Regions from separate parts of the Homo sapiens genome. Here regions 2, 3, 4 and 5 are each linked to region 1. The links come from fine-mapping of genetic effects on gene expression. A gene starts in region 1. Each other region holds a variant in brackets. All regions are shown on one strand. Distances are from middle to middle. Region 1 holds the start of ATP1B1 (ATPase Na+/K+ transporting subunit beta 1). Region 2 has its middle 29 kb from the start of SLC19A2. Region 3 overlaps LINC00970 (long intergenic non-protein coding RNA 970). Region 4 overlaps LINC00970 (long intergenic non-protein coding RNA 970). Region 5 overlaps CCDC181 (coiled-coil domain containing 181).

Region 1 (4,104 bases):
TCATTCTTAATCAGTTCGGGCTTGTCTTTATGCCAGCGAGGTTGACCTTGGGGACAGAAGGGTGGCCAGGATAAGGACAAGCATCCTGGTATTGGGGAATTCTCTGATATGGGGCTGGGACGTCAAGATGGGCCATGATGGCCCCTGGGGATAGGGCTTCTCTGCAGTGGAAGCAGAAGCATCCCGGTGTTTTCTGCTGTGTCACTGTCCTCAGAGGGATGTATAAAGCTGCTTGGGGGCTCATAGGAGAGGGATGAAACCAAGAGTTTGGCTTTCCAGCAACAGCGGACAAAGAGTGGGAAGGGGTACTCTATGCCCCAGGTCTGCAACATCTTGCCCTATGCGCTAGGTTTTCCCAAAGGTCCTTTGGCTCCAAGAATTTTACAGCAGAACAAAGGGATCGATACCCCCAAGGGGGCATAAAAGCATGCCAATGAGAATACCCGCCGCCGACCGGGCACCAAGAAAGTCCTCGGTGGCTGGGTCACGTGCAGATATTGTTGCCTGGGGTCTAGACTGGCCTGAGTCTCAATTGGTTTCTACGGGACAACTCACTGCGGGCTACCGCCCTGGGTGGGTTTGGCAATTGTCCTGCTCGAGGTGGTTCAGGCCGCCCACAAGGGGCACAGCCGGGCAGTCAGGAACCGGGGCTGCCGGCTGGGCTGGCCTGCAAAGAAGAGGGAAGGGCCGGAACTGCAACCGCAGTGGCGGGGAGTGCGAGGGGGCGGCAGGTGCAGGAGCGGGAGGCGGGGCGGAGCTGGGCAGAGTCCTCGCCAGTCCGGCGTCCCGGAGTGACCTTCCCCCACCCCGCCAGCGCCCAGGAGGGGTGGACCCACAGCCCAGGGAGGCCGAAAGCGCGGGCGGGCAGGCAGAGGCGTGGAGGCTGGGCCAGGACTGCCGGGCTGGGGTCCTCGAGGCTCCGGGCGACCCAGGTGCGGATCCCCCAGCCACGGAAGGGGCGGTTCACGCCCAGCCGGGAGCTGGGAGGGGGCTGCGCGGCGCTGCCTGCGCGTCCCTCACCGCCGCCCCCGCCTCCTCCTCGCCCCGCGCCCAACGCCCCGCGCCCAGCGATCCAAGCGGCCCCTCTAGCCCCGGCGGCTCCTTTGTGCCGGCCCCGAACCCGCCCTCTCGGGCCGAGTCCCTGCCCCTGGCGCCGGCGATTGGCCACCGGGCCGCTAGAGGGCGGGGCGCACGGCCGCCGGGGCGCGGTATATAGTAAAGGTAGGGCGGGCGCAGCCAATTCCTCGGCTCCTGGCGGGAGTGCCGGTGGCGCCCCGCAGTCCGCTTGTCCGTCCTTCCCTCTCTGACTCTCCTACCCCGGGCCTGTCTCTGCAGAGGTCAGGGGAGGCGGGGGCCCAGCACACGTCCCCAGTGGCAGCGGGAGCGGCAGCTACGGGTTCGCGGAGCCCCCGACCCCCCAAGGGCTAGAGGAGCGCTCGGCGGACCAAAGAAAGCCCGCGAGCGGCTGCGCGCCCACCAATAGGTGCGGGGCTCGGAGCCGCGCAGCCTGCGCCGTCCCTCCCTCCGCCCCCGCCCCGCCGCCGCCGCCGCCGCCGCCTCCCCCTCCTCCTGCTCCTGCCTTGGCTCCTCCGCCGCGCGTCTCGCACTCCGAGAGCCGCAGCGGCAGCGGCGCGTCCTGCCTGCAGAGAGCCAGGCCGGAGAAGCCGAGCGGCGCAGAGGACGCCAGGGCGCGCGCCGCAGCCACCCACCCTCCGGACCGCGGCAGCTGCTGACCCGCCATCGCCATGGCCCGCGGGAAAGCCAAGGAGGAGGGCAGCTGGAAGAAATTCATCTGGAACTCAGAGAAGAAGGAGTTTCTGGGCAGGACCGGTGGCAGTTGGTGTAAGTACGGGGTCCGCAGCTCCCGGCCGCCGCGTCTGATCTTTCCCGGGCGGCGCATCCCCTGCGCAGGGTCCGCGGCCGGTTCCGCACCCACCGCGCTGGCCGGGGTGGCGGGGGCGAGGGTGGTGGACGCTGCTGGGTCGCGCCGGCCTGGGCTTGCAGTCCTGTGCGGAATGCGGTGTCCCCAGAGTGGGGCGCAGGGTCGGGGCTGGAACACGACAGGCGGAAGGTTATGCATATCGTAGCGATCTTGGCTTGGTAATTTGCAGTCTTTCCTACCGTGCATCGGTTGAGCCTTTTACTCCTGGGAATAGTCAGGCTCTGCGAGACTACATTTGTCTCTCCCGTGTCCTGAGTCCTTAAAAAAAAAATGAGATCTGGGGTCTTGAGAGAACCTCGTGAGGTGATGGGATCTAATGCAGACGAGGTTGTGTGTTACAGCATCTTTCTTCTAGTCTAAATACGTATCTCAAAAGAGAGGAAAGAGAAGGGTGGAGAGGAATCCATCCACACTGTAGTATTTCACAGCGATGGCTAAGGATTTCCCTCCATGACCTCCCCTGGAGTCATCACCACCCAGAAATGGTTCAATAAGCTCCATTTCAGGACTCCGATTCTTAGCTTTGGCCCGAAACCTGGCAAAGTCTGGTTGTTTTCAAGGTCTACACAGACAGTTGTGGATCAGTCAGTAGGTTGGGTTGATTATGGTGAAGGGAATATAAACGCAGAGCAGCTGATCTTAAAATATTTTGTGCAGCCTGTTGCTTGGTTGGATAGACTTTTTTCCATCGAAAATTAGATTTCTTGTTTTCAGCCTCTCCGGAAAGGTGACTTTTTTTTTTTTAAAAAAAAGGTCATTTTGAAGGGCAGAGTTGTAGGCGAATCTATGAGTCGTGACTGCGTGAGGGAAGGAGGGAGGGAACTCCCCCTGCTGCATCACTGCCCCCTCCTCCTCCAACATCATCATCATCATCATCATCATCATGACCATCACCACCAACACCACTGGCACCACCACTGCAGTCATTCAGGGAGTCCTGAACAGAGGCCGATTGGTGTTCCTGCTTGGGAGGATCTGTGGGAATCGGCAGGAGAATGAGTCAGGGAAATAGTGCTTAGCTGACATTTTGAAATGGAAGAAGCTGGAATATATGAATTTTTGTAAAGAAAAAAAAATGCAGCCTGTGAGTCTCTCTTGATTGAAAATTAAAGGGTTAATAATGCATCACACTTCAAGGTTAGTCAAGGTGAAGCGTCTTTCCAAGGTGTTACTGGGAAGCATAGGTATCCCTGAGCCATGGAAAATGTAGTTCTTTAATGGCTTTTAGCTTTTGTTTTATATTTTATTTTGGGGAGACTTCTTCATTGAGATTATTGTCATAGTGTCTCAGGCATAAAGGTAGTTTCCTGTGTTTTACTGTGGAAAGGAAAACCTGAAGAACTGTGGGGTGTGTGTAGAATGAACAGCTCCCTGGCAACTCCTTGTAACTTGAGGGAGGCCTGGAAGGTGCACTGCGGTATGGGCACCCTTCTCCCCAGGTTAGCTGGGGCTTCCTTCTCTGGTGGTCTGACCCTGCTGCGTCACAGGGGCAGGGGCTGCATTGACTCTAGGCACATTGTGAAATTTGCCTTCTTGTCTTTTTCCCCTTAGTATAATATGCATCTTTGCTCATTCCAGTTTCATGCTTCTCAGAATAATACTTGCTTTAGAGGGTAAGGCAGTATGGACTGACTCATTTTTAAGCCGACATTTAATGGGCAGCACCTCCATGAGAGAGAGAAAGAGAGACCGTGTGTGTCAATTTTTATGTCTTGATATCCTATCCAGCAAGCTATCAGTATGCTGATTTGTGAATGTAGACCCAGGACTGCTGTACTTGCCTCCTCTTCCCTTCCATGTTCCACGGTACAGGTGCTGGGCTAAAAATCCCCTTTTTGTTTTGTGCTAATATGTCTGCCCCTTTCTGGCAGTGTAAAAACTGTCAGAGCCTCTCTTAGGTAGAAAAGGCGGCAGCAATTACCGTCTCCTACGGAGAAAATGCCCCTTTTCCAGCACTGGGCCCAACATGGATGCCCTTGGGGCGAGGGCAGGATGCCCTTGGCTCGATTTTGCTTATAGGTAGATTTTCACCAAGATGGACGCAGGAGACTCGCCTGTCACCTGCTGGAGAAATCACAGCATGCAAATCACTTTGTGCCTTCTGCCTTTTTATTAGGTTAATACAGACATTGGTAGGTTTTATATTTACAGCTAGGCCTGGA
Region 2 (4,123 bases), 350 kb after region 1:
TTACCTATCAAATTAAAAACATTACCAATGTTCATGACCTACCTATTCCATCTCCCTGTCTTACCAAAAAAGGTAACCACTATCACAAATTTTAAGTATATTATTACATGCCTTTAAAGAAAAAGTTTTATCCATTATGTGTGTTATTCTTAACCAATATGTTGTTTGATTTACATACTTGATTTTGAGCTTTATTTTTGAAATGGTACAATACAACATAGACGGCTACTTGTTTTTTTCTCAACAGTTTAATTATTCTCTAAAATTTATAAATGCTACTGTATGCAATTATATTCATTTGTTTTTTGCCACTGTATAACATTCCGCTATCACAAAATACCAAATTTTTTCTATTCATTTTCCTGTCTATTGACTAAATGAGAGTTAAATTAGTAATATATTTAATTTGCATTTATGTTTTGTTTTAATTTTCCTGTCTATTGACAGGAAAATGAATATTTGGGTTTTTTCAAGGCTCGTATGTTTTCATTTAAATTTTTTCTTTCATAATTGAGATTTTATTCAATCAGTACATAGCCATTATGGATAATTTGTAAACAAGTCCTAATGTAAGTTTTCTAAAGTATTAATTATTCCATTCTTTTCTAAACAGTAATTGTAGTGACTTTCCAACTTAAAGCTAGAGGCAAACTTTCCTTAAGAAAATATATCAGGCCCTAGTAATTTCAAATATTGATAAACTGTTAGGTTTAAAGCCCCACTAATTAACAATTTAGTATCATACTGCTATACTTCAAAATTTCCAAACTTTAACAATTCTGATATATGGAGAGCCAAAATGAGGGAGCAGTTTTCTTTAGGAGCAATTCTATTTGTTTTTAAAGCAAGAACATGGAGATAGGCTTTAAGTAATTTAAAATATTCAGAGATATTAGTGGATAATTGTGACTGCTAATGGCCATTTTGTTAAATTCATAAGATACAAAAACTGCCCTTCCTAGCAGCCAATACAGTTAACACCCAAGACTGTCAAATCCTCCCTTATGTTGACATCTTCACATTTTAGGTTGTACAGAAAAATTACAGGCATATCATTTCTTTTTTTAAAGAAAGTACATACATGCAGGTGTGCACTCACACATGCACACTTGTGCACACACACAACTTCCTTCTAAAATATGTGTTTTTAGAGCTATTTAAACAATCTTTTATTTACAACATAGGTAATAAAAATATTTATCCAGATTATAATGAAGAAGATACAGGAACCATAAGACTTGGTAACTATATTAATCAGATTTGATTTTTTTTCTCTCCTTAATTAAAGACTAGACCCTCCTCAGTTTTAGTTTCTCTACTTTCTGCAGGAAAGTTGTCTTTAGTTTCTTAGATGGCCATTTCAGCCTGTTTGCCTTTTGCTCCCCATTTTCCTTTGCAGTTTTTTGGCTGAAGATTTATCCTTTCTTCCTCCCTTTTTGGCTTAGTTTCAATTTTTGTAGGAAGTGGCTAGGAACCTTGCCGAACTATTCAAGAGCTCCTCCTTAACTCTCACTTAGCTAATGTGATCATCATCTTTAGTTTCCTGGCAGTGTTTTGTGGTGGGGAGCACAGATGCACTGTGCAACCCTTCACAAAGCCAGGTTGCATTGTTGCTGTATCTAAGTACCTCGCATAAGCCCAATTTATATACTCTTCATGTATAGTATTTTAAAATATAAACCACAGAATAAATAATCAT[TATTA/T]ATTAGTAAAGCTAATGACTGTTTGGTGCTGTGGTTTCAATGTTCCCTCCAAAACCCATATTGAAACTTAATCCCCAATGTGGCAGTTATTGAGAGATGGGGCCTGCACTCATGAAAAAATGTGTCCATTAACAGATTAATGAGTTATCATGGGAGGGGAAATGGTGGCTTTATAATAAAAGAGAGATCTAAGTTAGCACATTATCATGCTCAGTCCTCTTGCCATGTGATACCCCACACTGCCTTGGAACTCTGAACTCTGAACTCTGTAGAGTTCCCACTGGAAAGAAGGCTTTCACCACATGCAGTCAACCTTGGACTTCCCAGCCTCCAGAATGGTAAGAAATAAATCCCTTTTCTTTATAAATTACCCAGTTTTAGGTATTCTGTTATAAACAAAAGAAACTGGACTCAGACATCTGGATTTATCTAAATGCTTATCCTTTTATCTCATCCTCACTTCTTGTATGTGAGACCTTCCTATTAGGGTCTTGTTCATTTCTCCTGGATAATCCATTGCTGGCATGGACTTTTTCCATTTTTAAAATCTGTGACTGTTTTTATTCTAGTTCTTAACAGATCACTCTTCTGGGTACACAATTTTAGGTAGGAAGTTATTTTCCTTCAGTAATTTCATTACTGTTGCCTTCTAGCTTCCATTGTTGCTCTTGAGAAATGGCTGTTAGCTAACTGATTCTTTTTTTATATATGATGTCTTTTCTCTCTGGCTGCTTTTATGATCTTCTCCTTGTCCTAAGTTAATTGTAATTTAACTATTATGTGTCTAGTAGTTTTTAGATATCTGGCTTGGGATACACTCTGATTCCTGTATCTGTGGATTCATGTTTTTCGTCAGTTTTGCTAAATTCTCATTCTTAACATAGAATATTGCTTCTCCTCCATTCTATCTATTCATTCCTTCTGAGGCTATAAGATCTTCTCATTCTGTTCACCTTATATCTTAACCTCTTCTTATATTTTTTAATCTCCTATCTCATTGCTACATACAGTAAGTCCTCACTTAACATCATTAACAGGTTCTTGGAAACTGCAACTTTAAGAAAAATGATGTACTGTATAATCAAACCAATTTTACCATAGGCTAATTGATACAAACAAGAGTTAAGTTCCTATAGCATACAGTATATCATTTCACTTAAAGATGCGGTTTCTAAGAACCTATCCATGACATAGAGGAATTACTATACTAGGTAATTTCTTCAGTTTTACTTTCCACTTCACTAATTTTATCTTTAACTGTATTTAATCTGCTGTTTAACCTAGCCATTGAGCTTTTTAAAGTGTTTTAGTGCTAAATTTAATAAATATACAAAAAAGAACATAAATATGTAATTATATAGCAAATATACATGTACAATATTCCAAGTCAACAACACAAGTACCATAGAAATCTGTGTGCCCCTTCTTAAGTATACCTTTCTTCATCTTTCTAGAAATAAACATTTGCTAGACTTTTATGATAATTGTTTTATATTTTTGTCACCTATATATAAATATTTAGACAATAGTTTGAACAAATTGTATTGATAGATTCTTTTGTGTCTTAGTTCTTTTGTGTCTTTCTGTTTTATTTAAGATTGACTAAAATTATTGCTTGTGGTTCTGGCTTATTCATTTTCATTCCTGTATAGTCATATTTTAAGTACTCACTAGTCACAAGTGTCTAGTGGCTACCATATTGAAAAGTGCTGCTCCAACCAAAGGCTGGGGCAAAAGTAATTTTTGTTTTTTTTTTTTTGTTTTGTTTTTTTTGCCATTTAAAAGTATGGCCAAAATCGCAATTACTTTTGCACCAACCTATAAATATAAATAGGAGGTGAATTGCTCGGTCATAGGAAATGCATATATTTGACTTTAAAGGATAATGCCAAAATGTTATTCAAAGGGATTGTACCAATTTACATTCCCACCAGCAATTTATGAGATCTTATCCATGGAATTTTAACTTCAACATTTCTGTTTTTTTAAATGTTTACCAGTTTCTTATAAATGATATAAATGAACAATTTGATAAAAAGGCACACAGGGGAAATCTAGAAGGGTCCTGAGTGCAGGAGCTTCTGTCCCCATGGAGTTGGGGTAGGCACTCTACTGGCACAGAGATGTGTTCACCAATTTGGAAGCTTCCCAACATTTCTATTTTTAAATTCTAAAATATCTCTTTAGGTTCTTTTTCAAGTCAGTCTTGTCATATTGTTACTTTCTTGGTACTTGCTCATTTCTGTGATTTCATCTTTTGTATCTAAATTTTATACATATTTATTTTATACTGTATATCTCTTATAATTCCAATATCTGAAATCATTAGACTCTTAATCTGTTTGTTGTTCTGCTGACTCTTACTTGCAGTTGCTTATTTATTTATGTCTTTGGTGATTTTTAATAGTCTTTAATTTTTA
Region 3 (4,123 bases), 100 kb before region 1:
AGTAAGAAATCTAGAAGAAATATGGCCTTGTTTGGTGACTATAAAAGTTGCAGCAAAGGAGGGGGTGAAGTTGTCTCCTGACCGTGGAAGAAATAGTAAGTTGGGGCTGGGGTTTGAAGAGAGAAAGAAGATTTGGCACGATCATGGCAGATAACACCAGAGAATAGATAGTGGAGGAAAATCACGACTCAGAAGCAGCAAGATTGCATGGTTTTACAGAAGCCTTGGTCAGAAATTCTGAGCTCTCACCAAATTCCTAAGACCCGTATTGTTTCTGGCCATAAAGGCCAAACCTCCTTTGGGCAATGGGTGGCTTTTTCTGTTCCTATCTACCAGGGTCCTTCAGATTTTTTTCTTCCCAGGCAGACTCTATCTAAAACCCCATTGCAGTCCTCTGCCACAAGCATCCAGAACTCAAAGGAATAGTGCCTCATACACTATGGAAATTTCTCAAGACCCTTGAGTGATTACAGTAGTCCAAGAAGTGCTCACCCTACAGTGATCTTCACTATTCAGAGAAATTAAAAACTCCGTCCTCCTTACCCTTGAGGAGGATTTTGAGGTGAGAGGACTGGGGAGGGGCACACAGGCTGAGGGGTTTCCCCTGGGGGAAGGAGGAGATGCAGGGCAAGAAGAGAAGAAGTCCTGGCACCCTGCACTTGAGGGCCTGGCACACAGCCATCCAGGGAAACTGCCATTTCCCTGTTTCTGTTCATTGCTCCATGGCCCCTGGCATCATGGAAATTTCCAGCACTTGTGGAAATTCTCCAGGAATGTGAAACTGCAAAAGTTCTATCTATGCTGAGCCAAGGGACACTTTCTAGCTATCTGAAGAATTTGCTAATTAAATGACTAATGTCAACTAGATTCCCAGGGAATAATTTATATACATATGAGGGGAAAAAGCCACTCTTAACACACCACAGCATCTATAAAAGACTTTGCATTGTGCCTAGCACACAGCAAGGGCTCAAAAATATTAGTCCTCTTGTACTCTGAATTTAGTGACTGAAAGAGGGCATGGGTGGAGCTTCTGGAGGTCTGGGAATATCCTGCCCCTTGACTTGGGTTCTGGTTATATAGGTGTGTTCAGTTTGTAAAAAATCATCAAGCCATATACACATACTCTCCACATTTTTCCTTACTTACGTTATGTTTAAATCAAAACTTGCCAAAGCTTTTTTTAATGTTGCTTGTTACAAGTGAATGTTCTAGTCATTAGATTAGGGCCACCTCTACTTTAGTTAACTAAACCATTTACTTGCATGACTTAAATTATAATGTCTTTTCAAATATTGAGTAATTTGAAATTCCTCTCACTGTAGATATGTTCACAAAATTAGAATTGATGAAGATTCTCCAAGCTTAAAACAATGTATATTTGTTGAAATGTTGAATGAATGACTCTTCTCTTTTCCACATTTCTCTTTGTAGCCAACATTTTTCAGGAACTCCTTTAGCAAGTGTAGAAAGAAAGGCAAGAAAGAAAAGGCACTACTATATATTATAACAATACCTTATATTTCTCTTCTTATAATACATCATAAATTTAATCATATAATTATTTGTCAAATTTGTGTAAGTATTTGCTCAACATCTGTCTCTCTTGTTAGATTGTATGTGTCATGAAAGCCAGAGACATGCTCTTATACTCATCATTATATTCCCAGCACCTAGCAAGGTGACAAGTGTTGCATGAGTGGATAAATAAATGAATAATTGAGTGGATTAATGAATGAGAAATCCAATGTTAGTTTTAGTTGGGTGAAAACTTAGAGGATACATTGAATAAACCCTGGATAAGACATAAACCTGTACCCCTATTGTCATAAAGAATCAATGAGAATACAGAGGGAAAAAAAGTCTTTCAAGGAGGCACTCAAGTTCTTTATTGTATAAAT[C/T]GTTCAAATAAATGTCAGGTTGGTTTGTCCTTATTTTTGTTGTATAGGACTTTTTAATGTGAGTACTTGAAACACTGGTTTCCCTCATTTTAAGTATATTAGAGAATCTTCACATTTATACAAAAGAAACCTTATGATAAGGTCATAAAGGACCCAAGGGAATAATAAATGAAATATAAAGTCAAAGTTGTCTTATTAATAATAAAAAAAAACAAGAAATAGCCTATGCCAACGAGAGAGAAAGTACACTGGTAAGCACAAAACAAAGAGAGGAGAAAAACATTATGTCAAATGATTCAGGCACCAGGAAAGAAAACATTTTAATAAGAGATGAAAGAGCTGGGAGGAAAAATTATGCCTTTAGCTGCTTGGATATGAGTGTGGGGTTAGAGGGACTAAGGGGTCTAGCTAGAAAGACATGTCCATGTGCAGAGCTGGGCAAAGGCAGATCTTGAAGAAGAGGGAGTCTGCCTTAGACTCTCCCCAGTGTTCCAAGACAAGGCTTCTTTGTCCATTTCAGGACATGCTTACAGCATCCTCACCCACACGAAATGCCGACTGTCCTCTCGCTGCCGGCTCTCTGCCCTGACCTCCCCACAGAGCTGAACAGAGTTGTATTTTAATCAGCCCTCCTCCCTAGGTAATATATGTTACTTCTGGGCTTTTTCTCCTTTCAGTCCTCTGTCAAAACAGTACAACCGTATATCCAAGCTCTGCTCTCCCCTTAAAATTTATTTCATAGTATTCATTTTATTCAATAACAACTTTATTGATATTAATTCACATACAATGCCATTCACCCATTTAAAGTGTACAATTCAATAGTTTTTAGTAAATTCACAGAATTATGCAATCATCACCACAACCAATTTAGAACATTTTCATCATCCCAAAAAGAAACTCCATACCCATTAGCAGTCATCCCCAACCCTCAGGCCTAGGCAACCACTACTCTACTTTCTGCCTCTATTGATTTTGCCTCTCATGGACATTTCATAGGACTGGAATCATACAACATGCAGTCTTTTATGGTTGGCTTCTTTCACTTAGTGTAATGTTTTCAAGGTTCATTCATGTTGTACCACGTATCTGTATTTCTGAATTATATTCTATTGTATGAAGATACTACATTTTATTTAGCAGTTCATTCAACGGTAGCCATTTGATTTATTTCCACTTTTTGACCATTGGGAATAATGCTGCTATGATCATTCATATAGTGTTTTCTTATAGGATGCTAAAACTGGAATGAAGCTTCGCAGTTGTCGGCTCTCATCCCCATGCAACTCATGACTTTCTTCTACTACATCCCTAAATGTTTATGTTTAGCCTCATTTGAACAACTCCAAAAACAGAAAATAAACTATTGCCCGAAGAATTCTATTCCAGGATTAGACTTTTATGGTAATCAAAACATTTTTTTCCTTAGATTCTGTCTGCCTCTAACTTCCTAGCTTAGACTCTAGCTTAGTCTTTGGGGGCCAGAGCAGTTTACTTCCTTTCCCATACAACATCACGGAATATTTTAATCTATTATTTTCCCCTTGACTTTTTACTAGACTCTCCACTAAGAAGACTAGACTACATGATTTGAGATTGGTTTCCACTTTAAAATTCTGTGAAGGTGACCACCACATATGTTTTGAAATTTATCCACATGATGAATTGGATATGTGTTGGTTTTTACCCCAGCATACCCATATTTTCCTTTGGGAAATACCTATACAGTTTGGTTTACATGGAACCCACTCTCAGCTCCAGGAGTGAACCCCAAATGGCTTCTTAATTAAGTCAATCAGTAAATCTTTTTTCCCATGGCTCTAATGATGGTTCAGAGGGAGGAGGAGAAACATATGACTTAAGCCAATCCAATATGAGTGAATGTTGCCACTTTTGCTGTAAATAATGGGACACAGACTGTCCTCTTCTGTGCTTGATGGTGTGAGGATATGAAATTTGGGAAAACTGTCAGAGAACCTGTGTGAAACTTGAACCTGAGGATAAGACTCACACAAGTGGAAACAGAGTGGAGAAATGTATCCTGGTGATATCATTTGGGTTCTGAATCAGTACATACCTGCAGCAATAGTTACCCCAGGAACTCTTCAATTTCTCGAGCCAATAATACCTTTTTATAAAACTTGTGTAGCCTGCTTGGGTCAGGTTTTTGTCACTTGTGACTAAAAAATTCCTGATGCTTATATCTTGGTTGAGGATTTATC
Region 4 (4,123 bases), 200 kb before region 1:
TATTAATCTATTTCACAGAAGAGAGGCATAGAAATTAGTTGGCTTACCCAAAACACATGGATGATAAAGAGTGGAGCAGTCAAACCTGCCACTATAGGGCCCTGCCAATTCCTATGCAGCCTTCCTTAAAAGAAGCAATGGAAATATATTTAGCTTTAGAGGCAGGAGATGTAGGCTAGAACTCAGGTCTTTATTTATAAATGTTTGGAGCTTAGACAAGATAGATGGTTGTCTGGGCTTTAATTTCTTTATCTATAAAATGAGAATGCTAGCGCCTACCTCAAAGTGTGTTGTGAGGAATAAATGAATCCCTACAGTCTGTGAAAGTGATTTTTAAGCTGCTGAAAGCAACCAAAGGGAAGGTGTTTGGTGGTGGCTCTCTCAGTGCCTGCTACAATGATCTGCCACCTCCCACTCACCTTTCAGGATGGCCTTGAGGAGTTTGTGGACAGTGGATGCCAAGGTCAACACAAGCAGCAATGTGAGAAGATGAGTTACGAACCTTTTTAGGAGCTCTGAAAGGCTCAAGCACTCAATAAAATAGTTCTTAGAAATTTAGTTTTTCAAAAGCAACTAAAACAGCCTTGCAGAATTACAGAAGCCAGGAGAATATTTTCAAACCTTAGTTAGAAAATGAAGACCCTTGAGTAACTAGGCAGAAACTTTAATCGAATATACCCCATTAGATTTTCAGGAACGTATAGAAACTATGTAGCATAAAGGTTTATTTTTTCAGATAAGGAACATGAGATCTGGATACCATACTAATCAGTAGCAGAATTGGGACTAGAACCCAGGCCTCCTGGTTCTGAGTCTGTGCTACTATCTACTATATGAATTGCTCCTCTAAATGCATTCAAATGCATAGGAATGGCATTGACAACAAAGTTAATGACAAAGTATTAACTATTAAGGCCCACCAGTATGGACCTGGATGGGTTTGAACTTACCGTCTAACCTTGAGCAAGTTACTTCACATCTGTGCCTCAGTGCCCTCATCTGTAAAAAGTATTATGATAATGCCAATTTCATGGATTATTATGAAGGTAATGCACAGAAAGTTCTTAACACAGTGCCAGTCGTTGCTCATTTCTTAGTTATTGTATAATCATCAATCCTCTGCATGTCATCAAACCAGAATTATGACTACCTGTGCCTCTCCTTTTTAGGATAACAGCAAACGATCTGGGAGCCTACCAGGAGACAGCCTGGATGTAATTTAGGCAGATCCTGTCTGCTTCTTCCCATATTAAGCAGAGTTTGAAGCAATCATAACATGATAGGATGTGCCTTGATATGAGGGGATAAAAGGAGATGTAGCACTCATTCTGAGAATTTGAGCCTGAGTCCCAGTTTTTTCACCTACAAATGAGAATACTAATACTCGTTCTTTTTAACTTTGTGATACTCAAAACTGTCAGCTTCCATAAAAATTATAGACTATTCATTGTTATAGAAATTTAAAGCAAAAAGCAAAAATGCTGGTGGTTTTTCTTCTTGGTTTTATAAGCCACAGCCTCTCAGTGAAGTGGCTTTTTTACTTCCTTCTCACACTCAATATCTGGGGATTTAATGTCAGAAGTGGGTTAACATTTTATTAATTACATTTGATCTCATGGCCATGAACTTGGGTATTTGCTCACCTCTAACAAGGAAAATGTGGTCGTTGCCTTAGAACATGAGATCCTTTCTGAATAAATTGC[G/A]AAAGTCTTTTCAACAGCCTACTTGTTCTTTTTACATAGGAGCTTAGCTTTGGAATTACGTGAAAGCCACGCTAACCAGCTACCTGCTTTGTGTACTGTCCTAACAATTTGGCCTTTGATTTTATGCTTCTTTCAAAAGCATACAAGCAATAGGCAAACATTATTCATCAAACTGGTTTGATGACATTCTTTTGAATTTAGCTTTTTTTATTCTCCTATGGCACAGTCACATCTATTCTCAAGGCTATGATGACCCACGTGTGCTGAGGCCTCTGGGCAGAAGTGCCACATTAGAGCTTTCATTGGACAGATCAAGAGCTCCAGAGTTCCTGCTGGCTGCCTAAAGAAAGATATTTAGCATTTTCTCTGCGATTGCCTCCTTCCCTTGCCACAGTTTTCTCAGAGTTGTCTTAGAGGAAGTATTCATCTATATCTCTGTTAAGAGCTTTGATGCATAAGGACCCCGCTTGCAGGGGCTGTGAGGCTGCATCTGGCAGATGTGTTGATGTATAACTAGCAAAATGATTTAAGTTCAATCTGATCAATACTGTGGTTAGTATTAGCCTCACACTCCTCCTGTGCATCCTTCACCAAGCCCACAGTTTCTGCCCAGCCATGGTCCTTGAATCTATACTGCCTGATGTGGACACTTGTGTTAAGAATAGCTACCCTCAAAGGTACTCGCACTGTCACATTTTGAACTTCTCTGCCCTTTCTTCCTTTCCTCCCTCCCCACTCAATCCCCAACTTCACATACCCAGAAATCCTAGAAGCTTCCTCCCAGTAATCTCCTTGGAAGAAGCTGACCAGGCTCAGGGGAAATAAAGTAGTAGAGAAGTCCATATTGGCCTCTTCCTGTGGTTTCAGCTCTAAAAGGGAAACAAAAGCCCTAGTTGGAGACTGACCAGCTGTTTACCCACTTCACACACATGGTAAATGTTCTCTGCTGATAATTCTTGTTTCCATTTGACTAAGTGAGAATCCTTATGTCTAGGGATAAAGTGACTGACTCCAATGGGAGGTCACTTTCAGAAGAAACAGAAATAGATGGATTCCACAGCACTAACCAATGCTAATATTGGGTGTGTTAAAAATAAACATGTGTTTTCCCTCAGTGAAATACAACTTCCCCAACCATTTCTTTTTTCCTTTCTCTTTCTCAATATTTCATTAATGCAAACTTTTCCTAACTCAAAAGGTATTCCTGCATACAGATTGGTTTCCACTAAGAGAAGTATGTTTTGATAAAATTTACGCAAAGTGAGCACCATAAACATAGCAGCATAACATCACCTATGGTCATGCTGAGATTGTAACCAGTGAGGTAAATCTGAGCCAAAGACAGCTTTATATCTTTTAGTGGCTTTATTCCCTTTCAATTCAGTGGCTTGCTGAAATAGCTGTAATAATTAAACAGAGAACTTCTAAGCTATCTAGATTATATAAAGATAGGTGCTAAAAGTCACACTAGAGTGGGAAAAGTTTTGTGTGGCAATATGGCTAGGTTACTAAACTGCCTTATACAGAACCTAATGCAATTAGTACTTCTGACCATAGACTTTCCACTCCTTTTTAAAACAGTAATACTAGCAAAGAAGCAATAGAAAACAAAGAGATCACAATGGTAAACTCAGAGGTTCAGATATTTGCTCTGTCGCTTACAGTTTATATGAACTTGGACAGGTAATTGAACATTTCTGTGTTACTTTATTCATCTATAAACATGAATATTAGTAATACTTTTCTCTCAGGCCTGCTTTGAGGATATGAGAACACACACATGCATACATACATACATATACATCCATACTTACATACATAAACACACAGATATAGTAGTGCTCAAAAAATGTTGGATGTTGTTAACATTTGCTGCTATTAGGTTGGTGCAAACATAATTGTGGTTTTTGCATTGTTGGAATTTGCCATTTGATACTGGAATACATTCTTAAATAAATGTGGTTGTATTATACATCATTTTAATGCACATTTCTCACTTTATTTTATTTTATTTTATTGTTATTAGTTTTTGCTAATGACATACTACTTGCTGTTTATTTTATATTTATTTTAGACTATGGAAATGATGTTAGACCAAAAACAAATTCAAGTGATTTTCTTATTTGAGTTCAAAATTAGTGTAAAGCAGCGGAAACAATTCGCAAAACCAACGACGCATTTGGCCCAGGAATTGCTAACGAATGTACAGTGGAGTGGTATTCGAGAAGTTTTGCAAAGGAGAGGAGAGCCTTGAGGATACGAAGCAGAGTGGCCAGCCATCAAAAGTTGACAATGACCAGCTGAGAGTATTTATCGAAGCTGATCCTCTTAAAACTACAGGAGAAGTTGCTGAAGAACACAACGCCGACCATTCTATAGTCATTTGGCATTTGAAGCAAATCGGAAAGGTGAAAAAGCTT
Region 5 (4,123 bases), 300 kb after region 1:
CCAGTAGGGGCCAACTGACACCTCATACAGCCGGGTGCCCCTCTGAGACGAAGCTTCCAGAGGAAGGATCAGGCAGCAACATTTGCTGTTCTGCAATATTTGCTGTTCTGCAGCCTCTGCTGGTGAGACCCAAGCAAACCAGGGTCTGGAGTGGACCTCCAGCAAACTCCAATAGACCCACAGGTGAGGGTCCTGACTGTTAGAAGGAAAACTAACAAACAGAAAGGACATCCACACCAAAACCCCATCTGTACATCACCATCGTCAAAGACCAAAGGTAGATAAGACCACAAAGATGGGGAGAAACCAGAGTAGAAAAGCTGAAAATTCTAAAAATCAGAGTGCCTCTTCTCCAAAGGAATGCAGCTCTTCCCCAGCAATGGAACAAAGCTGGATGGAGAATGACTTTGATGAGTTGAGAGAAGAAGGCTTCAGACAATCGGTAATAACAAACTTCTCCGAGCTAAAGAAGGATGTTTGAACCCATCGCAAAGAAGCTAAAAACCTTGAAAAAAAGATTAGACGAATGGCTAACTAGAATAAACAGTGTAGAGGAGACCTTAAATGACCCGATGGAGCTGAAAACCATGGCACAAGAACTACGCGATGCATGCACAACCTTCAGTAGCCAATTTGATCAAGTGGAAGAAAGGGTATCTGTGATTGAAGATCAAATGAATGAAATGAAGTGAGAAGAGAAGTTTAGAGAAAAAAGGGTAAAAAGAAATGAACAAAGCCTCCAAGAAATATGGGACTATGTGAAAAGACCAAATCTACGTCTGATTGGTGTACCTGAAAGTGACGGGGAGAACGGAACCAAGTTAGAAAACACTCTTCTGGATATGATCCAGGAGAACTTCCCCAAGCTAGCAAGGCAGGCCAACATTCAAATTCAGGAAATACAGCAAATACCACAAAGATACTCCTCAAGAAGAGCAACTCCAAGACACATAATTGTCAGATTTACTAAAGTTGAAATGAAGGAAAAAATGTTAAGGGCAGCCAGAGAGAAAGGTTGGGTTACCCACAAAGGGAAGCCCATCAGACTAACAGCGGATCTCTCGGCAGAAACTCTACAAGCCAGAAGAGAGTGGGGGCCAATATTCAACATTCTTAAAGAAAAGAATTTTCAACCCAGAATTTCATATCCAGCCAAACTAAGCTTCATAAGTGAAGGAGAAATAAAATACCTTACAGACAAGCAAATGCTGAGAGATTTTGTCACCACCAGGCCTGCCCTAAAAGAGCTCCTGAAGGAAGCACTAAACATGGAAAGGAACAACCAGTACCAGCCACCACAAAAACATGCCAAAATGTAAAGACCATCAAGGCTAGGAAGAAACTGCATCAACTAACGAGCAAAATAACCAGCTAACATCATAATGACAGGACCAAATACACACATAACAATATTAACTTTAGATGTAAATGGGCTAAATGCTCCAATTAAAAGACACAGACTGGCACATTGGATAAAGAGTCAAGACCCATCAGTGTGCTGTATTCAGGATACCCATGTGCAGAGACACACATAGGCTCAAAATAAAGGGAAGGAGGAAGATCTACCAAGCAAATGGAAAACAAACAAAAAAAAAAAAAAGCAGGGGTTGCAATCCTAGTCTCTGAAAAAACCAGACTTTAAACCAACAAAGATCAAAAGATACAAAAAAGGCCATTATATAATGATGGGGTATCAATCCAATGAGAAGAGCGAACTATCCTAAATATATATGCACCCAATACAGGAGCACCCAGATTCATAAAGCAAACCCTTAGAGACCTACAGAGAAACTTAGACTCCCACACATTAATAATGGGAGACTTTAACACCCCACTGTTAACATTAGACAGATCAACGAGACAGAAAATTAACAAGGATATCAAGGAATTGAACGCAGCTCTGCACCAAGCGGACCTAATAGACATCTACAGAACTCCACCCCAAATCAACAGAATATACATTCTTCTCAGCACCACATCACACTTATTCCAAAATTGACCACATAGGTGAAAGTAAAGCACTCCTCAGCAAATGTAAAAACACAGAAATTATTACAAACTGTCTCTCAGACCACAGTGCAATCAAACTAGAACGCAGGCTTAAGAAACTCACTCAAAACCGCTCAACTACGTGGAAACTGAACAACCTGCTCCTGAATGACTACTGGGTAGATAACGAAATGAAGGCAGAAATAAAGATGTTCTTTGAAACCAATGAGAACAAAGACACAACATACAAGAATCTCTGGGACACATTTAAAGCAGTGTGTAGAGTGAAATTTATAGCACTAAATGCCCACAAGAGAAAGCAGGAAAGATCTAAAATTGATACCCTAACATCACAATTAAAAGAACTGGAGAAACAAGAGCAAAC[A/T]CATTCAAAAGCTAGCAGAAGGCAAGAAATAACTAAGATCAGAGCAGAACTGAAGGAGATAGAGACAAAAGAAACCCTTCAAAAAAATCAATGAATCCAGGAGCTGGTTTTTTGAAAAGATCAGCAAAATCGATAGACTGCTACCAAGACTAATAAAGAAGAAAAGAGAGAAGAATCAAATAGATGCAATAAAAATTGATAAAGGGGATATCACCACCGATCCCACAGAAATACAAACTACCATCAGAGAATACTATAAACACCTCTATGCAAATAAACTAGAAAATCTAGAAGAAATGGATAAACTCCTGGACACATACACCCTCCCAAGACTAAACCAGGAAGAAGCTGAATCCCTGAATAGACGAATAACAGGCTCTGAAATTGAGGCAATAATTAATAGCCTACCAACCAAAAAAAGTCCAGGACCAGACAGATTCACAGCCAAATTCTACCAGAGGTACAAAGAGGAGCAGGTACCATTCCTTCTGAAACTATTCCAATCATCAGAAAAAGAGGGAATCCTCCCTAACTCGTTATAAGGCCAGCATCATCCTGATACCAAAGCCTGGCAGAGACACAACAAAAAAAGAGAATTTTTGACCAATACCCCTGATGAACATTGATGCAAAAATCCTCAATAAAATACTGGCAAACCAAATCCAGCAGCACATCAAAAAGCTTATCCACCATGATCAAGTGGGCTTCATCCCTGGGATGCAAGCCTGGTTCAACGTATGCAAATCAATAAACGTAATCCATCATCTAAACAGAACCAAAGACAAAAACCACATGATTATCTCAATAGATGCAGAAAAGGCCTTCGAAAAAATTCAACAGCCCTTTATCCTAAAAACTCTCAATGAACTAAGTATTGATGGGACGTATCTCAAAATAATGAGAGCTATTTATGAGAAATCCACAGCCAATATCATAGTGAATGGGCAAAACTGGAAGCATTCCCTTTGAAAACTGGCACAAGACAGGGATGCCCTCTCTCGCCACTCCTATTCAACATAGTGTTGGAAGTTCTGGACAGGGCAATCAGGCAGGAGAAAGAAATAAAGTGTATTCAATTAGGAAAAGAGGAAGTCAAATTGTCCCTGTTTGCAGATGACATGATTGTATATTTAGAAACCCCATCGTCTCAGCCCAAAATCTCCTTAAGCTGATAAGCAACTTCAGCAAAATCTCAGGATACAAAATCAATGTACAAAAATCACAAGCATTCTTATACACCAATAACAGACAAACAGAGAGCCAAATCATGAGTGAATTCTCATTCATAATTGCTTCAAAGGGAATAAAATACCTAGGAATCCAACTTACAAGGGATGTGAAGGACCTCTTCAAGGAGAACTACAAACCACTGCTCAATGAAATAAGAGGACACAAACAAATGGAAGAACATTCCATGTTCATAGATAGTAAGAATCAATATCGTGAAAATGGCCATACTGCCCAAGGTAATTTATAGATTCAATGCCATCCCCATCAAGCTATCAATGACTTTCTTCACAGAATGGAAAAAACTACTTTAAAGTTCATATGGAACCAAAAAAGAGCCCACATTGCCAAGACAATCCTAAGCAAAAAGAACAAAGCTGGAGGCATCACGCTACCTGACTGCAAACTACACTGCAAGGATACAGTAACCAAAACAGCATGGTACTGGTACCAAAACAGAGATATAGACCAGTGGAACAGAACAGAACCCTCAGAAATAATACCACATATCTACAACCATCT

What was found. PIP is the estimated chance that this variant, and not a neighbour inherited with it, causes the effect.
Region 2: its variant is the best candidate, but not a certain one, in a credible set for the expression of ATP1B1 in whole blood (TOPMed, PIP 0.61).
Region 3: its variant is the best candidate, but not a certain one, in a credible set for the expression of ATP1B1 in Th17 cells (Schmiedel 2018, PIP 0.58).
Region 4: its variant is the best candidate, but not a certain one, in a credible set for the expression of ATP1B1 in lung (TOPMed, PIP 0.86).
Region 5: its variant is the best candidate, but not a certain one, in a credible set for the expression of ATP1B1 in whole blood (INTERVAL, PIP 0.52).

Annotation. Positions count from the first base shown.
Region 1 is chr1:169,105,085-169,109,188 of GRCh38, forward strand. It overlaps ATP1B1 (ATPase Na+/K+ transporting subunit beta 1), which reads left to right and starts at 1,606. Exons shown (of 6, transcript NM_001677.4): 1 at 1,606-1,842. The coding sequence starts at 1,746. RefSeq lists enhancers at 23-596, 1,087-1,381, 1,170-1,742, 1,743-2,315 and a silencer at 654-1,573.
Region 2 is chr1:169,454,727-169,458,849 of GRCh38, forward strand. It overlaps a transcript of CCDC181 not described here. Among named protein-coding and RNA genes, the nearest start is that of SLC19A2, 29 kb to the right of the region's middle. The variant TATTA/T (reference allele first, on the strand shown) is at 1,700.
Region 3 is chr1:169,003,578-169,007,700 of GRCh38, forward strand. All of the region lies in intron 3 of LINC00970 (long intergenic non-protein coding RNA 970), which reads right to left. Among named protein-coding and RNA genes, the nearest start is that of LINC00970, 81 kb to the right of the region's middle. The variant C/T (reference allele first, on the strand shown) is at 1,902.
Region 4 is chr1:168,905,399-168,909,521 of GRCh38, forward strand. LINC00970 (long intergenic non-protein coding RNA 970) reads right to left here. Exons shown (of 5, transcript NR_104091.1): 4 at 2,461-2,572. Among named protein-coding and RNA genes, the nearest start is that of LINC00626, 120 kb to the left of the region's middle. The variant G/A (reference allele first, on the strand shown) is at 1,704.
Region 5 is chr1:169,401,397-169,405,519 of GRCh38, forward strand. All of the region lies in intron 4 of CCDC181 (coiled-coil domain containing 181), which reads right to left. Among named protein-coding and RNA genes, the nearest start is that of CCDC181, 24 kb to the right of the region's middle. The variant A/T (reference allele first, on the strand shown) is at 2,375.